Homo sapiens: one gene and its partner. The protein of the gene in region 1 purifies or fractionates together with the protein of each later gene. This does not show direct contact. Each region holds a gene or a part of one and is shown on either strand. Other genes may lie near its edges.

The links.
Region 2: the proteins of CACUL1 (region 1) and RAP1A purify together in Homo sapiens (affinity purification with mass spectrometry; one large-scale study listed by BioGRID and IntAct). This does not show direct contact.

The regions. Positions count from the first base shown.
Region 1 is NC_000010.11:118,692,471-118,695,970, forward strand, and holds part of CACUL1 (CDK2-associated and cullin domain-containing protein 1), read right to left. Parts: intron 2,761-3,500; coding exon 2,671-2,760; intron 1-2,670.
Region 2 is NC_000001.11:111,696,289-111,699,788, reverse strand, and holds part of RAP1A (ras-related protein Rap-1A precursor), read right to left. Parts: intron 2,349-3,500; coding exon 2,292-2,348; intron 1-2,291. UniProt on the Homo sapiens protein: Counteracts the mitogenic function of Ras, at least partly because it can interact with Ras GAPs and RAF in a competitive manner. Together with ITGB1BP1, regulates KRIT1 localization to microtubules and membranes.

The DNA.
Region 1 (3,500 bases):
TATTTAAAAAAATTCAAGCTAAAATAAATATACTCTCTCCTTTTTATTCAGTGAACATTAAAGAGAATTAACACCCACCTGTATCAAGGGCATGGGGAAACCAGTATTTCCCTTCCTTGGTGGTGGTCCTCAATTAACACTATTACTCATTTTGAATTGTTTTAATCTAGCCCTTTTACATTTTTCCTCTTGGAAAACATTTTGGCTACACATGTCAAAAACTATAAAAATATTAATGCTCTTGAATCACTTTAAAAACGATAATCTGAGTAAATGATTATAAATCAGAAAAAGCCACGCTTGATGCTGTGGAACATTTGCTCTGTGGTAAGTAAAAAAGTAGAAGTTAATAAAACGTCTAACAGGAGAATAGCTAATTAAAGCTGGCAAATAAGCACTGCAAATGATACAAGGACCAATCCATTCAGTCACGCCTTGGGAGAAACTCGTGGCAAAATGCTTCCCTCCTTCCAGTCCAGCTCAAATATGGCTTCACTAAGAGTCTCAATACAGTGCTACAGAGAACCACTAATCAGTCACAGCTGGCAAAGTCAAACCCATCTGCCACAAAATAAAGATGAAGAAACAAAGTGTGTGTATTAAATGAAAACGGGCAGAATAGGATTGCTGGAACTATTTCTAAAGAATGGATGCCAAAAATGGTAAGTCATGAGAATCTCCAAGGATTACAGCCCAGGAATCTAGAGTTTAAAAAGCCTTCTTAAGTGACTCAGATGCAGTCATACAAAGACCAGCACTTGCGAACTACTGCAGTAGAACAAACTTTTGCTTTCAAAATTCAACTTTTAAAATATTCTAATCTTAATCTGTCAGGTGAATAAAATGGCTTTAATAAAGCAGGAACATAATGGGTACTGGCAAAACATGTAAATGTCAAAATATGTTTTCAAGTATCTCAGAAAATGTGCAGGGCAGCAAAAGGTTAGTATGTGATAAAATTCACCTTTTCAAAAGGACAATTCTCAAATATAGAATTCTCCTTACAAGTAGTATAAATCCTATTACAAGAGCTTGAACCTGGATAAAATAGCATTTAGATAAACATGTACCCACAATACTTTTCTACCTTTAGTGATAAACTTTATTTTGCAATTTTGTTACGTATGATAAAAGCCAGTGCTTATAAGCTGCCTACTTGGGAGGCAGAATTTGTCATACTGCACTTAGATGCTTTCAAAGGAAAAAAAATCATTCATAACCTGGTACACACACTATTTCAGGAGCCATCTTCATCACACTGCTGTAAAATTCTGAGAAACTAAATACAGAAAAGTATCAGTTTATTGGACATATGCAATAAAATCTTTACTACTTTATACAAGTAATTTCTGTTAAAAGTCACAGAAAGTAAAGCTCAAACCCTAGATCCAAATTTAACAATAAATTTGAATACTCTAGATGTCATTAATCATTTAAAGTAGCCTAAGGGTTTTGTTTTGTTTTGATGGAGTCTCACTCTATCGCCCAGGCTGGAGTGCAGTGGTACAATCAGCTCAGGAAGTAGCTGGGACTACAGGCGCCCGCCACCATACCAGGCTAATTTTTTCTATTTTTAGTAGAGACGAGGTTTCACCGTGTTAGCCAGGATGGTCTGGATCTCCTGACCTCGTGATCTGCCCGCCTCGGCCTCCCAAAGTGCTGGGGATCACAGGTGTGAGCCACCACACCCAGCCTAAGAAGGTATTTCTAAAATCAGTCTACCAGTACCAGTTTTCACTTGGTTTCCATTTTAGCTTGCTAAATTCTGACAGGTCGTTTAATTAAGCAAACAAGCCATCAATTAATTAAAATAACCATTAAACTCAAATGGATAGTAATAACAGCAGTGAATGTTTGCATGCTTATTATGTTATCAGGTACTGTGCGTTAAGCTCTTTATATCATGTTTTATTTCATTTAATCCTCAAACAACAAAAGAATTTCACAAAAAGGTAATTACTATCTAAAAAGCATTCCTTGTATTTATAGATTGTAGAACAACGTTCTATCCTGATAACTTTTGTAATCTCTCTCCCATGGACATTTATAAGTTGCTAGACAACTCTATGACAAGTTTGAGGTTCCGGCTTATAGAAAGATATATACAAAAGCTCCTTGGGATTCCTTTAAATTTATAATGTTTTATTCTAAGATAGAGAGACACATTAAGAATTTAAAAACCATGCTTTTGACTATAGTGATCTTTGGTATTTGCTTTGGTTCTTGTGATTGTCTCTCTCCCCAGAACATCCTTACAAAATGACTGTAACTTTACCAACACTTCTAGATTCTTCGCAAGTTACTTAACAGGCCTAAGAAGACGGGGTTGTGAATGTGGATGTCTGTAAGTATGTGCAGCGTGAGGCAGGAAGTAAAGAAGAAACTAAGACCAAACATGAGATTCAATTTTATCCAAAGTGTATCCTACAATTTATTTCTTGTATTTCCCTCACAGGTTCTGCAAAAACCACACTAGTTGGTTTCCACTAGCAGAGAACATTCCAACTGAGCTCTGAGTTTACATTTCACAATGATGAGTATCTACTCAATTTTTTTGCTCCAGCAAATCCAAGTACCATTAAGCCTCACAAAACACATACAGAACCACTGCCCTCTTGGAAAAGGCTGTAACAAACAGTTCCAATCCCAACAGAAATGAGAAATGTTTACCTGGTCTGAGGGTATACAGGCCTTTCACAATATTTGCCATAGTTGAAGGTGTGACCTGAAATGGTGTTGACTGGGCTTCTAAAAGTAAAGCTGAAATAAGAAAACAGGTTAAAAAGAATGTAACACATATTGACTGTCAAGATTTCTCTATTACTGTTTCTCCCAAAGACTCCTGAAACATAAACAATTGTAAGAAAGGAACAGTCCAATAAACCAATCAAATGTTTATATACTAAGGATTTTATTTTTTTAATCCACTGCAGTAGCTAAAATACGTGAAGGTCTGCTGGCCACTAATGGAAATGAATCAATTCATGAAGGTTCTGAAAAGTAAGTAAAGCTTTCTAAAAGCACTAGTATAATGTATCATGAATGATACATTATAAGTGAGTTGAAAGTGCTTCCATTACATTTGGAGAATAAAGTATCATATGATAATCTCCCTCAATCATTTCTCCTTCCCCCAAAACACCATTAGTAATTATTTGGTAACTGTGATCAGAGACAGAAATTCATTTCCACAAATGCTATAGCTACATCTACTATTTTCTTACAAGAGCTAAGGGCAAGGGATGATAATGGCTCATCTTTCTCATTTTCATGTCTTTGGTGACCCTGACTCTGAACATGACAACAGAGACAGTTTTCTTTTAGGTTATCTACTGCCACACAAACATTTTTAAGAAGTTTTTAACGAGTAAGAATAATTCCTCTAGATAAGATCACTAACAAATACAAGTGAATTCCATTGATAAGTGAACACAACAGATACTACTGACCTAAAATGATTCATTTTTAATTTATCTCAAAGAGCTGCATTTGCTAATAAC
Region 2 (3,500 bases), on another chromosome or scaffold:
GGCACTAAAGGAAATGAGATGGCCTGGGTGCAGTGGCTCACACCTGTTATCCCAGCACTTTGGGAGGCCAAAGACAGGAGGATCCCTTGAGTCCAGTTCAAGACCAGCTTGGACAATATAGTGAGACCCTGTCTCTACAAAAAATTAAAAAAAAAAAAAAGCTAGGTGTGGTGGTATGCACCTGCAGTAGCACCAGCTCCTCAGGAGGTTATGGTGGGAGGATTTCTTGACCCTGGGAGGTTGAAGCTGCAGTGATCTGTGTTCACACCACTGCACTCCAGCCTGGGTGACAGAGAGAGACCCTGTTTCAAAAAAAAAAAAAAAAGAGGAAGTGAGATGGATAAAGAAAAAAGTAGTGAGTAATGGAGGATAAGATGCTTGGAAATTAGATTAGAGAGGTATTATACTTATTGGTAATCACATAGCCTAGAGTAAAACCATGGTATGAATGCCTTAAAGGTAGGATGGACATCAAGGAAATGACAGGCCAAGCCAGGGTAGTAAATCATTTATAATATCCATATAGATTCTATATGGATAGTAAAATCACTAAGAATTCTGATTGAATCAGTGTATGTGAAAGAGAGAAAGCAAAAATCTTCAAAGTGTAAGGAGTGATTTTGAGACAAGATTATGCAGCTGTTTGTAAGGTTTTATGCAAGGTACTGGGGACACAAACAAGCAAATAGGCCTTATAACACAGCGTGTTGAGTGCTAGATGGGAGACAGACACGATATTGGATAGCACAAAGTAAAGATCTCTGTGATAGAGAACTTCCTTCTTACAATCTGGACAGAGAAAGAAGAATGCCCGTACACTGTGGATGTGATTTAAAAAAAAAAAAAGCAGAAAGTATTCATTTTAGCTATTAGGGTCTCTGGAAACAAAGGGGAATTCTGCTGATTCAGAAGCTAAAAACATTAGAGAGCAGGAGGGTGGGAGAGGGAGAGATAGCTTGATTCAGCTGATAGAAAATGTAGTTTCAGAAGGTCTTTACCAGAAGCTTGTTGTGAGGGCAAAGGTCCCTGATAAGAGTTAAGCCATTTTCCCAAAAAAGAATGGAAAAATACAGTATAATTAGTACTATATTGTTGTATAAAATCACTCCAATTTGCTTACATGCTTTTTTGAACTATCTGAAATGTTTCCATCATTTATAAAAATTATAGTGGAAAACTTTGTGCTGAATTTTAAACAACTTATCACATTTAAAAATGCCAGCCAGGTGCCATGGCTCACACCTATAATCCCAGCACTTTCAGAAGCAGAGCCAGGAAGAACACTTGAGGTCAGGAGTTCGAGATTAGCCTGGGCAACACAGCGAAACCACCTCTACAAAAAAAATTTTTTTATTAGCTGGGGGTGGTGGTACGTGCCTTTAATTCTAGCTACCCAGGAGGCTGAGGCAGGAAGACTGTTTGAGCCCAGGAGACTGCGGTGAACTATGATTGCACCACTACACCCTAGCCTAGGTGACAGAGCAAGACCTCGTCTCTTAAGCAAAACAAAAAACGAACCCATCCATTTTAAAGCTAAGAATTGCCTAATGTGTCAAGTCTATGTGCATGGAGAAAAATAAACAAAGAAAAGCAAAGATTGCTTAATGTATGTATTTTATGTGGCAGTATAACTGGAAACCATCAGTTATTAATAAAAATTATAAAGGTGATGGTATTAATGAAGAAGAATAAAAGCAAATACACAATTCCATACTGTGTAACAGACATTATGCCTAATGATTTATAATTATTAACTCATTTGCTTATCACAAACACCTTATGATGTACTAACATCATTATACTCATTTAAAGATTAGAAAAAGGAGGCTCAAAATAATTCTAAATCTTCTGAGGAAGATTTTTGCCTTCCTCAGAAAACATGTATCTGTCACCAGCCCCTTGAGATGTCAAAATGCTAGTGAAAAGAAAAAATTATAAAAATTAATGACTATGGTGCCAAGAGACAAGGTCTTATTTAAACCCATAGAAATACAAATATTAACTAAAGCTCTAAATTTAAAATAAATTTTAAAAAATCACTGACAGCATAATCCTTACCTCAATGTAGGAAGAAACCCAACACACAGATTATTACAGGTGAACTTTGTGATATGTGAGCATGAACTACATCAGAGTTGATTTCATATACTTAAGAATCCCTATGTTCAGAGAATTTCTTCTTAATCAGAATGATTACTTTTACTCAGAATTATCTGGATGACAAAACCTACTCAGATGACAAAACCTGCTCACAAATTAAAATCTATCAAAAAAAGAGAAAACATCCTTACTGTCCCTGCAGTATCCAGGATTTCGAGCATACACTGTTGGCAATCGACTTCAACTTGCTGTGGGGGCAAAAAAAAAAAAAAGGTTAAAGAGTAACATCAAAATCTCATTCTGTTTTCTTCCCACCTCTTCCATCAAAGTAACTATTAACAAATACAAAGCCTGTCTCCAGCAGTATGCTGTAATGGCTGGGGGTAAACTTGGTACCACAATAAAGAACAGCGGTCTCAAGTACAGTCTATTCATATTACAGAAGCCAAGATGGTTAATGCTGAGTTTAGATATTTTCTGACCTCTGTAACGATTCTTATTTGTTATTAGAAAAGGCAAAAGTCATATTTTGAAATTTAAGGAAAACTTCAACGAACAAGTATAGTTCTAACAGAAAAAAAAGTACATATGTGTATTTATATTATCTCCAAAGAAAACAAAGTACAAAAATATTAAATGGCTCAAAATGCGCACAACATTTTGGGGTAAAGAAAATCTTGCCAACTTACCATGTTCAAGTTGTTAAAATTTTACTAAAATATGCAGAAAATTAAATACACAGTAAAATCTGAGTTTAAGACATAAAAGAAACACAGGAGTACTAAAATAAACAGCAATGAGCTAAAACAGTGCCTCAAGAAAAAGGCACTTTTCTAGAAAAGCTCTATGTGAAAGGTGAAATTTTATACACTGAGTTCTATTTACCCATTGGTCTTATAAAAGAAAAGAAGGTTGGTCTAATGAAAGTATCAACTATCAACTGTGTGGAAAACTGTTTTAATAAAGAAGGGATTAAGAAAAGTTAGTCCCTTAGAATTTTAGGTACAGATCTTGCTTTGCAGTTAAAGCTTTAACTAGCAACTTACTTTGGGGAAATTTCAGTAGAGCAACACTGTCTTCTAAAAATAAATGTGCTAACCTAAAGACTATTTTAAACTCTGCTTCTGTGTCAGATCAGACATTGATGAGGGGCACCACTGGTCAGACCACAAACTCATCCACCCCACCACTTATGGGACAAGTGTGATAATCTGCAAAATTTGTAACTGGGAATGTTCAGTGAATAATCAATTAGGACTATAGTTTCTTGATGTATCTAGAGCATAATTCTGTTTCCAATTTGAAGACAATGAAACTGCTCTACTAGTAGTCCTTCATGAACTAACAAATTAATTCAACAAAAGTTACAGCACTATTAAAGGTAAATTCTAAAAATGTCT